Linked DNA regions of Homo sapiens: region 2 is linked to region 1. The links come from fine-mapping of genetic effects on gene expression. Tissue or cell type: whole blood. Region 1 holds a variant in brackets; the other region holds the start of a gene. All regions are shown on one strand. Distances are from middle to middle.

Region 1 (8,104 bases):
GAATTTTAAAAAAGAATCTGTACCCATACCTCTCAAAATGTGCCCCCAAAAATGCATGTTGGTGCCAGGCACAGTGGCACTTGTCTGTAGTCCCAGCTACTTCAGAGGCTGAGGTGGGAGGATTGCTTCAGGCCTGCAGATCAAGGCTGCGGTGCACTGTGATCACACCTGTGAATAGCCACTGGACCCCAGCTTGGGCAACAGAGTGATACCCCATCTCTAAAAAAATAAAAATAAATGCATGTTGGAAGGCCTGACCACAGCCATTTATAACAACAAGAGCCACCCAGGGCCAACAGGAACGAACCCTAAGAGCCAGGCACGGCAATGACACCTGGAGCACTTCTGCCCCCAAGGTCAGGACACAGAGGTGGCCACGGCTGGAATACCCAGCCCCACCCCCACGTGCCCATGCCTCCATCTGCCCTGCCCATGTCTGTCTGTCCAGCAGAGGAAGTATGACCTGCACTACCGCATCGCCCTTGTCGTCAACTACCTGGGCCACTGCGTATCTGTGGCAGCCCTGGTGGCCGCCTTCCTGCTTTTCCTGGCCCTGCGGTGAGTCTGCCCTTCCGCCTTGCTTTCTCCTCATCCCTCCCCCTACAGCACCCCCTTCACCTCTCCCAGACATTCTCACCTCCATTCTGGGGCCCAGCAGATAAAAGGGCCCGTGGAGAAAGTGGGGTTTGGGTGGGGTGCCAGGGCATGAATCACCAGCAGGCATGTGGGGTGCAGAGTGGGAGCTGGACTCAGAGGCCCAACTGTGGCCACCATGGGTGGGAAGTGGCTCCTAGTGCAGCCCTGCCCTCATCCCAGGCTGAGTCTCTACCTGGCCTCAGGGGGAACCCAGTCCCAGTTGACCCCTGAACCTGGCTGACCCCTGACCTGCACCTCCCACAGGAGCATTCGCTGTCTGCGGAATGTGATTCACTGGAACCTCATCACCACCTTTATCCTGCGAAATGTCATGTGGTTCCTGCTGCAGCTCGTTGACCATGAAGTGCACGAGAGCAATGAGGTCATTGCTCGGGGAGACTCGGGGCTATACCTGGGGGGCTCTGGGCTCCGGGGGCACCCATCTGTCTGTCTGGTCTCTGCTTGGACCCCTCCTTTGTCAGGAAGCTCACTACCTGCTAAAGCAGCCCTCTTCTTCTTGAGCAGCTTTTACTCTTACAAGCTCTTCCTAATGTTGAACTTCTGCAACTCCACCCCATTCTTGCCCCCACTCTGAGAACAGATCCCCTCTGCTCTCTCCAGGCTCTGAGACAGACCCCTTGGAGATTTGCACACAGAGACTGATGTTCACCAGTCCCTGCTACTCTCAGCTGGTGACAACTGACTTTCTGGCTGCTCCTTGGCTGACCCATGGCCAGAATGCTGTCATCTGGGCTGTGGCTCAGGTGCAAAACCAGACCTGAGCTCACCTCCACCCTAGCCATTGTCCCAACAGAGCTGGGCTGGGAGGAGCAGGAAGCTGCCAGGCTGGGAGCTTCACAAAGCTGACTCTAGACACATTTATCCTAGTCCACTCCTCATCTTGTGGATTCAGGTGCCCTCAAAGACCCCTTTGAGAAAAGGAAGCTAGAACTAACCTCTGTTGAGCTTTCTCTCACTTAATCCTAATGAGACCAGCAGGGATCATTTTCCCCATTACATAGACATGGAAACTGAGACTCACAGAGGTTAAGTGACTCGCCAAGGTCACATGCAGTGATGATACCTCTACATAAGGGGCTATCCCACATGCTAACTGTCCACTCTGGATTTCTGTCCATTGCTGTGTACTGTGTCCAAGCTATTGTAAAACTGTAGACTAGTCTTGGGCCATCACAGAGCCCTGTGGCACACCGACAGAGACTTCTCAGTACATTTCCTTTGGGTGGCCTGTGCCTGAGCAGACACCAGCCTGGTGTGATCCTTAACATGGTCCCACATAGAACACTGCCTCAGAATCAAACAGGTTCACTCGAGTTGAGGGTGCCTTCTAGCTCCAACGTGGGCTTGTGCTAATAGAACATCATCAACCCTGGATGAAAAGTAGGGTTGGGAGGAGGGGCTTGGTAGCTTCCCACCTCAGCAGGACTTTCTCAGAAAAAAGGAGACAGCCAGCCACAGGGACTGTGCAGGGAAGCCCAGAAGCAGCCAACAGCTCAGCACAGGAGGGTTATCTGAGAACTGGGGCTGTCAGAGCCAGACAGAGAGGATGGGCTGTGTGCAGAAGCAGAGCCCCTGACGCACAGCTCCCCGGACCTTGAGCTGGCTCCATCATTCCCCATGTCCCAGCCTTGGCTCTCAGGGTGCCCTGGGGATGAGCCTGTGGGGAAGATGACCAGGTGGGGTCTGTTGAGAGGAGCTCTGGCCTGGAAGCCCAATGTCTAGACCCTGGCCCTGCCATGGCCCACTGCGTGGCTCTAAAGGGGCAGGGTCTTCCCCTCCCTGCCTCCTTTGGGAAGGTAGCCTTGGTGCCTGGGGAAGGGTGGCCTTGCTCAGAGGGACAGGGACACATTCCCCTCTGCTGGGAAGGCACGGAACCACAGCAGGCACAACCACAGCCACAACACAGCTACCCTCATGCCTGTCTTTGCCATCCTCTATCTCCTTCAACCACCCTGGAAGGCAGGGTTACTTTTTGAGGTTCAGAGAGGTGCAGTGACTTGCCGGGGGCCGTGTACTTTGCAAGTCTCCCTCCAGAGCTAGTAATAATTGTGCCAAGTCCAGAAGTTCCCAAACCCAGAGTCTTTGGAGAATCCCCTCCCTGGCCGCAGCCCCACTTCATACACCCTTGACTCACTTTACTCACTTTTATTTTTTCATTTTTTTCTAAATGAAATTCCATATCCCATCCCCAAAAGGAAGCAGGTCTGACTTGCTATGGATTGAAAATGACTCAAAAAAACTAAAATGAAAACACAACAAGATGGTTGAATTCCAGCCTCTGCCTACAGAAAGCTCAGAGCCAGACTCTTGCTCTCTTTACTAGAATGAAAAATTAGAAAGAGTTAGAGAGAAGTTAAAAAAAACACGTTGGCCCCAGTGGAGAATGGCACCTTAACTTAATCTGAAAGTGTGAAAGAGCACTGGAGAAGGATGAAGCTTTTCAGAGTGAGGTTCGCTGGTATTTGATGGCATGTCCACGAACCCCCTTTGGGGAGCCCTGTGTCTTGTTGCCCTGCCTGGGGATGGGTATGTCCTACCTGGGCCCCAAGCTGCCTCCTGACAGCCTCTCTGCCCTGCACACAGGTCTGGTGCCGCTGCATCACCACCATCTTCAACTACTTCGTGGTGACCAACTTCTTCTGGATGTTTGTGGAAGGCTGCTACCTGCACACGGCCATTGTCATGACCTACTCCACTGA[G/C]CGCCTGCGCAAGTGCCTCTTCCTCTTCATCGGATGGTGTGAGGGTCCCAGGGGCAGCAGGGCCTAGTTGGGGGGAGGACTTCTCACCAGGCCATTTCCCTTCGTCTTGGGTCCAAGGACCAGAGCCTGGCCCTGCCCTCCACCCCCAGCGCAGTCCGGTGGATGCAGCTACTTCCCTCCATGCTGGTGAGGAACAAGCAAAGGATCTCTCCAAAGGATATTCCTCAAATAGCTCTTCTCCCCCTGCCAGGAAGGACCTGTCCAAAGGCCTTTGTCTCTGGCTCAGAAACTGGCTGGCTCTACTTCTCTATCACAAAATCACGCAGCCCTGCTTGGAGAGAGGGGCAGGGGCATGGGCCAGGTGTTGAGGGACAGGGCACCCCTGGGGTTGTGGGTGGCCTGCTGTTGGAAGAGTAAAAACATGATCCTAGCCCTGTTGTGGTACCCCACGGTATGTCCTACAAGAAAGTCCCTGTCCATCTGTCCCCTGCAGCCCAAGTCTTTCCTTCTTTCAGGCATCCCCTTCCCCATCATCGTCGCCTGGGCCATCGGCAAGCTCTACTATGAGAATGAACAGTAAGTGGATGGGCCAGCCATGGGGGGTCATGGGGAAGGGAATGGGGGTGTTAGGACAGGTCAGCCTTGGGCTCTGGCCAAGCCGTGGAGCAGGAATTGTAGCCACACCTAGACAGATCCACGTTCCTGTTGTCCTTAAATTGAAAAAAATAGTCCTGCACTCAGAGGTACTCACATGGTAGGGCTCAAGGAACTTTGCTGAATTAAGTTAGGAATTGTGGTTCCTTGAAGTGCCCCCCGACCCAACGCATGACCCCTTTGGTCTTTGTAAGGCCTCCTCAGACTTGGATGTGGCAGCTCTGGCCCGGGGTATGTGGAAGGGGCCAAGGCCGCACATGACATCCAGAGCTGTCCATGAGCATTTAAAGAGTCCATGAGCATTTAACAGAGCTTGTTTTTTTTTCTGAAGTCTCAGTCTCTGCCTGGGTGCAGTGTCCCATCCTGAGGTTCTCCCTATGCCAGAGGCTGTAATATGCTGAGCCACAGCCCAAATGACAGCAACTCTGGCCATGGGTCAGCCAAGGAGCAGCCAGAAAGTCAGGTGTCACCAGCTGAGAGCAGCGGGGACCAGGGAACATTAGCCTGTATGCAAATCTCCAAGGGGTCTGTCTCAGAGCCTGGAGAGAGCAGAGGGGATCTGTTCTCAGAGTGGGGGCAAGAATGGAGTAGAGTTCCAGGAGCTCAACATTAGGAAGAGCTTGTAAGAGTAAAAGCTGCCCAAGAAGAGGGCTGCCTTGGTAGGTGGTGAGCTTCCTGTCAAAGGAGGGCTCCAAGCAGAGGCCAGAAACCCTGGGAGACAGGGAGAATCCTATCTGAGGCAGGTCTGCACTGGATGACCTCCAAGATTTCAGAGGAATGAGTTCCCCAAAGTTGATGGCCCCTCCCTGTGGTCCAGTAGTTGCTGGCCGACCCAGACCCTAAAGCATTTCCCCTGACCAGCATCCCCGGAGAATGAATTATGCCTCTGGCAGCCAGTGAGGCCAGCCAGGCAGCAGCTCCCCTCACTGGGTGCACAAGCATTGGCTCAAAGACGCAAAATCCCAGGCTGGAGGTAGGAAGGCTCCACTTCCACATCTGCTGCTTTGTGTGGCCGAGTGAGTGCCTGGCACACGGAACAGCGGGTTTCAAGCAATATGGGAACAGGTGGCCTAAGGCAATTGGCCCTGGGCCAGCAAGGGGGAGCCCAGCTCTCCCTTTATTCCTGTGCCTCCTGCATGCCCAGTCCTATGCCTAGCAGTCTGCAATGGGGCAGGTAAAAGAGGAGGAGAAAGAGACCCATGGCCTGTCCTCAGTCGGGCTGGGGAGATCAGACCCACCATGTAGAGCAAAAGACAGCCTGGTGGGTAAGGGTGGTCAGTGGAGCTGGTATTTCCACCAAGGCTTTCTGGGAAGGGGCAGTCCTGGAGATTGGGTCTCAGGAAGGGTAAAGCTGGAGGACCCTGGGCCCAAGTCTGTGGGGGTCCCCCAGTTCCAGCTCAGGAGGCCCCCTACAGCCACCCCATCTTCACAGGTGCTGGTTTGGCAAGGAGCCTGGCGACCTGGTGGACTACATCTACCAAGGCCCCATCATTCTCGTGCTCCTGGTAAGCCCTCAGCGGTGGCTGGGATGGGGCTGGGTGCCAAGAGGACAGAAGAGGGCCCACCCAGGCAGAGACGCTGGGAAAGATGTGGCATGGGCAGCCCTGCGCACACACTCTATATGCCACCCCCGTACCCTGTCCATGCCACCCTGTGCCCCAGCACCACCCGGCCTTCCCTTCCTCATGCTCGATGCCCTGGCGCAGCCCTGCACCACTCTGCTGACCTCAGGGCTCTTTCTCTGGGAGGAGAAAGGATCTGATGGGTAGACTTCCTGTGCCCTCCCGGTCTGACACTGTACAATGCTGAGAAAGCCAGGTGAGCAGGCAGCTGGTGACAAGAGAAGAGTGTGCGGGCTTCTGTTCATTCCAGACCTACGTTCCCCTCAGCCCCCAGTGACCCTCTCCAGGTCCAGCCCACCACCCCCAGCCTGAAGCGGTGAATACCGGGATGCAGCATAATGAGGAATTGTTCCTTGTCCAGCTCCCTGCCCTTTGCCAAATGTATTTGCATCTAAGGTATAATTGCCACACATCTTTAATCCACAATGAGCTTTAATTAAGAGAGAGTTCAAGTAGAGGCTGCATTCTGCAAAAGGAACCCATTATATATCATACCTTTAAAAAAAAGAGAGAGAGATAAAGAAAGAAAGACATACAAAAAAGCCCCGTAAGAAATTGGCATTTACGTAAGACTTATTTCAGGCTCAGTAATTTCAGGCTCCTGTATGTACCAGCTTCCTTAAAGGGCCACAGTTCCTTCTGGGAGACTCAGCGAGAGTGCCATCTCCTCCTGCACACAGAAGGTGCCTGGTGGGGCTTTCTTTTGTCTACCTTGGAGACAATTATTATTTATCTCTTTTATTTTCTTACTCTCCTTTTTCTGTGACTTCGGGTTTCATTTGACCTCCATCTTTGGAGTGTCCTTGATATATGTGAACTGATGAAGACTAGGAAGGTTTTTCACCCACTGCTGGAAATTCCACCGTCAGGGCTTGGTTCGCTTCAGAGGCAGAAGCCAGGTTTTGTCAGCAGCTAGTAGGATTGTCCTTGGACTCCCAGCTGCAGTGAGTCACTCACCCCTCAGTGTGTATGGAAACCCCATGAGATCCTTTCCCTCCCAACCAGCTGCCAAGGGCCATCCTGGAGGAATAAGGCTTTTGATGAGCCTGGAACTGAGCCAAGGAAGGCTGGCCTGGATGGGGGACCAATGGTGGCAAAGAGTAAGCCCCAACTGTAAAGATGTTGGAAGGGTGGTGAGGAAATGCCAAGAGAAAGGGAGGCGAGGAACGCAAGAGCTCAGTGTCAAGACCCAGCTCCATGCTTCCTCTTCCAGACCCATTCTCTGGCTCCACCCCTGCGTCTGTGCTCACGAGCCCTTTCCTTCTTTCCTTTGGGCCCAGCTCTTTGCACCAACAGGGGCTTCCACATTCCAAGCTGAGCCCTTCCAGAAGCTCTATCTACATTATTTCCAACCCTTGCATGCTCAAGTCCTAAAAGAAGTAGGGTTATGCTCTCCATTTTACAGAGGAAGAAGCTGAGAGAGATGAAGTGGCTTGCCCAAGGTCACCACTAATAGCTAGCAGAGCAGAGGCTCAAAGGCAGGTCTCCTGCTTTGTCCCCACCATCTGCCTGTTGTCCTCGAGGTTGGACACGTGTTTGGTGTTCCTGCCATCCCTACACTCCCCAGCAGCTCACAGCTGCATTTCTGCTGCTAAGAGACACTCACTTATTTCTGGTTCTGAGAAGTGAATCAGGTGGTTGAATTTGCAGGAAGCCTGACTTCTTGCTGGTGTTGTCATTGTTGGTGTCATGGGAAAGGATTGGCAGTCACTAGGCCAGACACAGGTCTTAGTGGTCTCTGTGACTATTTCAGCCCATGCTGATCTTCTAAGGCAAGCTCTGTGGTTAGGCCCCTCGGGGGCAGACAAGGAAGCAGGAGCTCATGAGGTTAAGCAACTTACCCAAGGCCACACAACTGCAAATTGGAACAGTCAAAATTTGAGCCATGAGACTAGGACTTGGTGCTTCAGTTCATTTGGGAGGGGGGCCTCATCTTCAGTTCTTAGCCCATCTGCCATTTCTCCAGGTCTTTTTGACACCTTAGGAAAGATGTCATCTCCCCCACCCCCAACCCCTCCAGGCCCCCAGCTAGGCCACAAGCCCTCTGCAAGCAGGGGCTGTGACTGCCTGTCCACTTCGCCATCGCTGATGCCTGGCTCAGAGCCTGACACATGGTCCATTGATTCATTGAATGAATGAACAATTAAATAAAACCAGAAACAGGCTGAACGAGGGCAGGGTACAATAGACAGTTCTTACTAAAGAACTGGAGTGTGTTTTTAGCAGGGAGGTAGAGTCCAAGAATGGAAAGCCGGAGAGCTCAGTGTGGGCAGGGTGACCAGAAGGCTCCCTGGAGAGAGAGGAAGGTACCTGTGGTGGTGTGAAGGGGGAGGCTGGGAAACAGGCTCAAAGGAAAGAAGGATTTTCAGGTTACATAGACCCAAGCTGAGATGAGTGGGGCCACATAACTAAATGTCTGCCAAGTGTAAGGATGGAGACAAGGCCTTGGTTGCTAGGTAGATGAATGGATAG
Region 2 (8,104 bases), 84 kb after region 1:
CTTGTTCTCCAAAATTTTATAAACAGCCTATAATATTAAATAGTTTAATCATCTTGACCATAAGATGTAATTTCCATAAGCCTTTTTTATAACCTTTTATTAAGGAGTGGGTTAACGCTCCAAGAAAACCTTGTTAATCTGACTCAGAGGCCCATATGCTAGTCTTGCATCAGTGCCTTCGACATTAATGGTTAATTTATAGAGAAACTAAACTTATTTTATCTCTCAAAATTGACCCTTACAATGTCACACACCCATGTCTTCCATGATAGTTCCTGGGTCTTGAGGAGTTGAATAGTTTTAATTTCTGGCCCTGTGTCTCATGAACACAGTTTATTTTGATTGGTATCTTCTACAGGGTCTGAAGATAAAGCTTTAACTGCTGTCAGTGTTTAAGATTTAGCCGGACTTGGCATCCTTTTTAGACCCAGGAGTCTAAACCCTGTAACTTGATGGCACAAGGACTTTAAAAGCACATACAGAAAGTTACACAGATGTAATAACCTTAATGAAAAATAGTTTTTCTTTTAATCTCAGTTTTTTCTAAGCAGACCAAAACTTAGTAATAATGACATAGGAATTATTTCAATATAAAGTGTAAAATCTGTTTGTTAGGCCAGTTACCCAAAAGCAAAAGCAAAGAGCTTCTGCACTGCGACTGCTGTTCCCTGTGGAGAATCCATTTAGATTAACTGCAAGTCAAAACTAATTAAAGAGATACTTGAATTAGTTATGAGAGGTGAAGCCAGCTGGGCTTCTGGGTCGGGTGGGGACTTGGAGAACTTTTCTGTCTAGCTAAAGGATTGTAAACACACCAATCAGCGCTCTGTGTCTACCTAAAGGTTTGTAAATGCACCAATCAGCACTCTGTAAAAACGCACCAATCAGCGCTCTGTGTCTAGCTAAAAGTTTGTAAGCACAACAATCAGCACTCGTAAAAACACACCAATCAGTGCTCTGCATCTAGCTAAAGGTTTGTAAACACACCAATCAGCACTCTGTAAAAACGCACCAATCAGCGCTCTGTGTCTAGCTAAAAGTTTGTAAGCACAACAATCAGCACTAGTAAAAACACACCAATCAGTGCTCTGCGTCTAGCTAAAGGTTTGTAAACAGACCAATCAGCACTCTGTAAAAACGCACCAATCAGCGCTCTGTGTCTAGCTAAAGGTTTGTAAATGCACCAATCAGCACTCTAAAAATGGACCAATCAGCACTCTGTAAAGTGGACCAATCAGCGCTCTGTAGAATGGACCGATCAGCAGGGCATGGGCAGGGCCAAATAAGGGAGTAAAAGCTCGCCACCCAAACCAGCAGCTGCAACTGGCTGAGGTCCTCTTCCACACTGTGGAAGCTTTGTTCTTTTGCTCTTCACAATAAATCTTGCTGCTGCTCACGCTTTGGGTCTGCACTACCTTTATGAGCTGTAACACTCATTGCAAAGGTCTGCGGCTTCACTCCTGAAGTCAGCAAGACCACGAACCCACCAGAAGTAAGAAACTCTGGACACATCTGAACATCTGAAGGAACAAACTCCAGACATACCATCTTTAAGAATTGTAACACTCACCACGAGGGTCTGCGGCTTCATTCTTGAAGTCAGTGAGACCAAGAACCCATAGGCAGGAACCAATTCTGGACACAGTTAGACATAGGAAGAGTGTTTCCTGGGTCGTAAGTGAAAATTTTTTATTTCATAGAACAATTTAAAGCCAAAAGCACAGAATATTATGTTGGAAGGAAACATTTCCTTTAGACCTTTAAGAGAAAACATTTTTAGCATCAGACCACAACAGAACCCGAAAAAAAAGAAGCTTACAGAAGCTGAAAATGAGTTGAAGAATAGAGTGATTATTTCAGGCACTTTAAAAGGGGAGAAAAAGCTGAAAACAGTGAGATGCAATACAAGTTGAAATTTACTTAAAAAATTATAATGTCTTTTATCAATTTTAATTTTATTAAGAATGAAGCAATACTTCAAGAAAATTCCATTGTTCTAACCAATTTTTTTTTTTTTTTTTTGTGTGTGACAGAGTCTCACTCTGTCACCCAAGCTGGAGTGCAGTGGTACAATCTCAGCTCACTGCAAACTCCGCCTCCTGGGTTCAAGCAACTCTCTGCCTCAGCCTCCCGAGTAGCTGGGATTACAGGCGTCTGCCACCACGCCTGGCTAATTTTTGTATTTTTAGTAGAGACGGGGTTTCACCATCTTGGCCAGGCTGGTCTTGAACCTGTGACCATGTGAGCCACCTGCCTTGGCCTCCCAAAGTGCTAAGATTCTTCAGTATATAAATGGTTTTTAGAAAATACCAAAACCCAATTCCTAGAAAGACCATTAAAAATAATTTCCCTTTAATTATAGACAACTTGATTATCTAAAAGCTTTTTTTTCCATAAATCCGCTTATGATTTACTCCAGACCATTCATGACATGCTTGTGAGGTAGAAGAATAGGGTCTGGAGGCAGGGAATCTAAGGCCAATTTGCCCTGACTTCCTAGAACTGAATCACAAGGAAAACCCCACCTCTCCACACCCAAGTAACAAAAGTATCAGAGGCTACTGTCTTTGCACTGCCTCACAGATAAAAATGGAAAGTACCTCTGATTGGTCCCCTCCCACAACCAATCAGACTTGTCGTGGGCCACTCCTTCACTTACATAGGGTATAACCAAGTAACCAATGGAAAACTTCTAGAGGGTATTTAAACTCCAGGAAATTCTGTAACCGGCCTCTTGAGCTCCTTGCTGGAGCCCAATCCCAGTCTGTGGAGTGTACTTTCATTTAAATAAATCTGTGCGTTCTTTGCTTCATTCTTTCATTGCTTGGTTTGTGCATTTTGTCCAGTTCCTTGTTCAAAATGCCAAGAACCTGGATGACTCATAGTCAAGACCCTCCACCAGTAACATATATTGGCGAGCCAGCCAGGAGGTAAGCCCAAAGTTTGGGATTTATTTTTCTTCTCTTGATTTCCCTTTTCCTCTCTGCTCCTTACAGGGGAACTCTTTTCTCTGTCTCTTTTTCCCTTTCCAGCTTGGAACCCTCGGTGGACAGTGCCTAAGCACAGAGGCAACCACAGGTTTCTAACAGGGCCACTCTCTGGTGAAACTGAAAGGTTTCTGTGTGAAAGTGCCTGACCACCACTGCCCAATTCAGGTGAGGGACCTGAGTCCTTTTCCTTTTTTCAGTCTTTCAGTGGCCGTTTCCTAGTAGCTTCTTGGTAATTGAGGGAAACTGGCCGGGACCACTCTCTACTGTTACCTGAAGGCCAAGGAGTGAACCTGGGATAGCTCTCCTGCCCAGAAGGCGGAAGGACTCTTTTGTATCTTTTTGAGTTATAGTCCCTGATCCCTACCTGTGATGCAATTGGCAGCAGAAGCTCGTCCAGGGTGAACTCACACACATTTCAGGCGACTTAAACCCTCTTTCTTAAGCTAAATTCTCCCATAAAGTTGGCCTGTAAGGACAAAAGATAATATCTCTTAGATATTTTGACCTCCCTTCTCCTACTGAATCTATTGACTGGCTGAGGACCTTTGGGACCCACAAGCTTTAGAACACATTCTACATCTTGGACCTCCACTTAAGGGAGCTTGGTGGTCATTGCTTTGGCATCAGTTTGCTTGCCCTGAACCCCGTAGAAATTCTATATATCTTTTATATACCCAATATAAACCCAATCTTTTATATAACCTCTGCACCATTTCTTCATGGGGAATATCCCACTAGCCTTGGTACCGTTAACTCTGCAGTGTTCGGGAACCTCCTTAGTCTTGCAAGGAATGCAGGAAGATATGGCCTATCTAAATTGGTAGGAAGCTAGAAGCTGAGACCTTCATCCAGGGACAAGAGAAAAGCTCATATTAGGCCATTGCCTCTGGAGGGAAAACATACAAAGCAACACTGGTGCCCACCTAAGGTCAGAGATGTCTGACACTTTTAGACTGGACCTCAAAGGGGGATGCCTAGGGGATCCAACTCCAGACCTCAGCCTCTCCAAAGGGGATGCCCTAGGCAAAGGTTCTCAGGTCTAGTACTAAGGCCTCCTTAGAATTGTCTCTCTCTTGCAGACCACTACAGGAAACACTCCATTTATTCCACCTGACTTCCCACTTGGCTGCATCCTCAACCATTGAAATGAATTTGACCCTGATAATCTAAGGAGGAAACATTTGATATTCTTTTGCAATAATACTTGGCCCCAGTATTGTTTGGAATCTGGAGTTTGCTGTTGAATGGGAAAGCAGGATGACGTTGCATGTATCCAGGCTTTGGTGCTGCTGTCCTAAGAAGGGTCAGGCCTAGTCAGCATATGGTGCTCTCCTTTGGTGCTATTTGGCTCCAGTGTCTTTGGAGTCTGAGGAGGTTTGGCCTTTAAAAATCAAACTGCCACCGGAACTGCTTTAAAAATGTTTGGTTCACAGCCTTCACTGGATTACCTATTGGAGCAAACAAAGTGTAACCATGTAAAACCTGTGAGCTTGTATTGATATCTCATGGCTAGAGTTCCAAGGTAAAAGCTATTGGATCTTCGTTTGTGTGTGTGTATACATGTCTAGATGTGTTTATTTGTATGTACACTTATTGTTATATGTTGTGTCAACCAAATCAGCTTATAAATAAAAAAGCACTCATAAATTAAATAAATAAGTCCAAGCAATTTTCAAGTTCATGTGACTTAAGTAAATCTTCATTAAATAGCTGGCTTTAAAATTATTGGTAAAATGAAAATAGAAATATCTTCAGAATTGTCAGCATACATTTTTGTCTGGGTTTTATATTTGTCTTTGCTAGAAATGTTGAAGTGTCAGCATTTGGCATAGAAGATTATAAAGCTATTAACCCAGCCAAAACAAAATGGCCTTAGTTTATGTGGCTTCTTTGACAAATGAGACTAATTTAATATTGTTAGCTAAATCTTCTGGGTTATTGGCAAAAACACCTATGTATTTAACTGTGAGGTTCTTATTTAGGTGAACACATAATGTTCATTGGCTATTAAAAATGGTTAACAAATAAATAACTAACTTTAAATGATGGTGTCTAATATCTCAGTTTTCAGAAGTAATCTAGATAAACTGTTAAAAATGAAAGACTTAAGTACATGTAAATGGGATGAATGATTAGGTAAATTTTGTGTAATTTAAAATCTTAAAAGTATTTTTGATGCCCATTGGATATCTCAGTCATTTCCAATTAAGAAAGGGTTATGATAGGGAGGAATATGTTTCCAAAAATTGTGGAATTATTCTCATCTATAAAATGCTAATATCTGATAGTTTAGGATTTTTTGCTTCCTAAGGTTTCACTAAAATTTAAGGTTACTAAGATGATATGGTTTGGCTTTGCATCCCCACCCAAATCTCTTCTTATAACTCCCATAATTACCGTGTGTTGTGGGGAGGGATCCAGTGGGTGAGAGATGATTGAATTATGCTGTTCTCATGATAGCGAATGGGTCTCATGAGATCTGATGGTTTTGAAAATGGGAGTTGCCCTGCACAAGCTCTCCTTTTGCCTGCTGCCATCCACATAAGATGTGATTTGCTCTTCCTTGCCTTCCACCATGATTGTGAGGCCTTCCCAGCATGTGGAAATGTAAGTCCAATAAACCTCTTTCTTTTGTAAATTGCCCAGTCTTAAGTATGTCTTTATCAGCAGCATGAAAACAGACTAATACATAAGGATATGAATTATAGTTAATATATAATTCTGTATACAAAATATGCCAAAAAATGTGTTATTGGTGAGAAAGAATTATTTTGTGTAGTTTGGAGGTTATCTGAAAGTTAATTCAAATTATGGACTTTAAAAAAAAGAGTTATTTATGAAACAAGGTAGTAAGGAACCAGTAAGTAGGGGAGAGATGTGAAGAAAGTTATATATATGAAGATATGTTTTTGTGAGGGAAGATTGTAGAGATGGTGGCTTTGTAGGAGAAAAGATCTTGTACGATAAATTCTTGTCCTAACGTAAAATGACTGGTTGTTTAAAAAGAAAGATGTTTAGGAAAACTCAGAAAGTCCAAGCATTTTGTAGATGGTCTGGGTAAGTTATGAAAAGAATTCATGTAAGAAAAGGATAATGTACCTTTGGTAAAAAGCATGGGAATGTGGATTTCTTGCCTAAGTTTAGAGGGTGAAAGGATGGTTTTAAGTGAGATAGGAATAATCTAAAAGGTTTGAACAAGTTGTGGAAGGCTTATGAAAAATTAATTGTAAAAGAGATTCTGTGTGTGAACATATTGGCTAAAGTTAAAGGGGAAGACTGGCAATTAGACTTCACCCATATGCCAGTGTGCAAAGTATACAAGTTTTTGGTAGTAGTAATAGATACTTTTACTGGCTGGGTTGAAGCTTGCTCTATGAGAACAAAGAAGGCTCATGAAGTTGCTAAGCTTCTTTTAAAGGAAATAAATCCCCTAGTTTGGGTTACCCCAAAGCCTCTAAAGTGATAAAGACCCATCTTTTAGAACTCAAGGGGCTGCTAAGGCTCTCAGAATCAAAAATTATTTACATGGGAAAGTAGAAAGGGCTAATCAAGCTCTTAAAATGGGTGTTAGCTAAGCTATGTTAGAAAACATCAGAAATTTGGGTCAGCTTATTGCCTGTAGCCCTCTTAAGAACCCTTAATTCTCCTAGAGCAAAAATTAATATGAGCTCATATGAAATGTTATACAGAAGGCCATTTTTTTTTGAGATGGAGTTTTGCTCTTGTCACCCAGGCTGGAGTGCAATGGCACAGTCTTGGCTCACTGCAACCTCTGCCTCCCTGGTTCAAGCAATTCTCCTGCCTCAGCCTCCTGAGTAGCTGGGATTACAGGCATGTGCCACCATGCCTGACTAGTTTTTGTATTTTTAGTAGAGACAGGGTTTCATCATGTTGGCCAGGCTGGTCTTGACCTCCTGACCTCAGGTGATTCGCCTGCCTCAACCTCCCAAAATGCTGGGATTACAGGCATGAACCACCGCTCCTGGCTGGCCATTTTTAAATAATGATCTAATTACTGATCCAGAAACAGCCAGTTTAGTAACATGCGTAATTAACCTGGGACAATTTCAGCAGGCTTTACAAAAGTTTAGAACTCAAAGACTCCCCACACCAGGAACTAACCAGCAACCCAAAATCAGGCCAGGAGATAAAGTACTTGTTAAAACATGGAAGGAGGGATCACCTGCTGAACAATTACAACCCAAATGGAAGGGACTATTTTCAGTGGTACTGGCCATGCCTTCTCCAGTCAAAGTACTGGGAATAGTTAGTTGGATATGTCTTTCCAGGGTCCAGCCTGCAATAACTGAAGCCCCCAGACCTGGAACCTGAAGATCCCATCAGCCACTAAACCTGTGAACCTGTAGAAGACCTGAAGTACCTGTTTAAAAGGCAGCCAAAAGATAAGTAAATTCCTATCAACTTTCCTTGGTGTCCTTCTTGTATATTTACTGTAAGCTGGATATAATAGTAGCCATTTTTATATTTTTACAATTTAATTGCTTTCTTCCAAATGGATTGAATCACTTCTTTTAAAGTGTTTTAATTAATTTTTATCTATAGAACAAAATAACAAATAAGTATTTTTTTTTTATACCATAATGGTCACCCACAGCCTGTGTATACTAAGACCATGCATACTGATAATCAGCTTTATTTTACAAAAGAGTTTCGCTTTACCCCTCTGGTAATTAATGGATTCTGGGTATTTATTAAAAACTTTAACACAAAGACTGTTAAATACCACCAGTCCAGCTTTGGCAAGGCACTGTTGGCTTTGTTTATCTCCATCATCATCCAAACAGACTACCAATCCTGATCCCAGCCCAATCTTGGGCCCTTGAAAAAATAACTTAACATCCTAACTACAAGGGAGAAACTCCTTTCAAATTAATGAACCTGGCTGACTTATATAGCCTTAAAATTATGGAAATGACAAGGGTTACAATGTCAGAATGAGCAGTAAACCTTCCCCAGTCCTATCAGAGCAAACTTTCTGGGGTTGCATCCCCTCAGAAACCCATTTGGGGCCCAATCTCAATGCACATATCAGTGCGCAAAGCACTAAAATTCCAGGCAACACTTTGTATTGAGAGAAGCCAAAATTTTGGTCC

The links. PIP is the estimated chance that this variant, and not a neighbour inherited with it, causes the effect.
Region 2: GARS1-DT starts here. The variant in region 1 is fine-mapped to the expression of GARS1-DT in whole blood (TOPMed, PIP above 0.99).

The regions. Positions count from the first base shown.
Region 1 is chr7:30,657,984-30,666,087 of GRCh38, reverse strand. It overlaps CRHR2 (corticotropin releasing hormone receptor 2), which reads left to right. Exons shown (of 12, transcript NM_001883.5): 4 at 449-558; 5 at 901-1,018; 6 at 3,241-3,394; 7 at 3,872-3,932; 8 at 5,443-5,515. It overlaps LOC124901609 (a long non-coding RNA gene), which reads right to left. Exons shown (of 2, transcript XR_007060276.1): 2 at 6,047-8,104. Among named protein-coding and RNA genes, the nearest start is that of CRHR2, 20 kb to the left of the region's middle. RefSeq lists an enhancer at 3,408-3,950. The variant G/C (reference allele first, on the strand shown) is at 3,357.
Region 2 is chr7:30,574,057-30,582,160 of GRCh38, reverse strand. It overlaps GARS1-DT (GARS1 divergent transcript), which reads left to right and starts at 4,382. Exons shown (of 7, transcript NR_038889.1): 1 at 4,382-4,512; 2 at 5,451-5,597.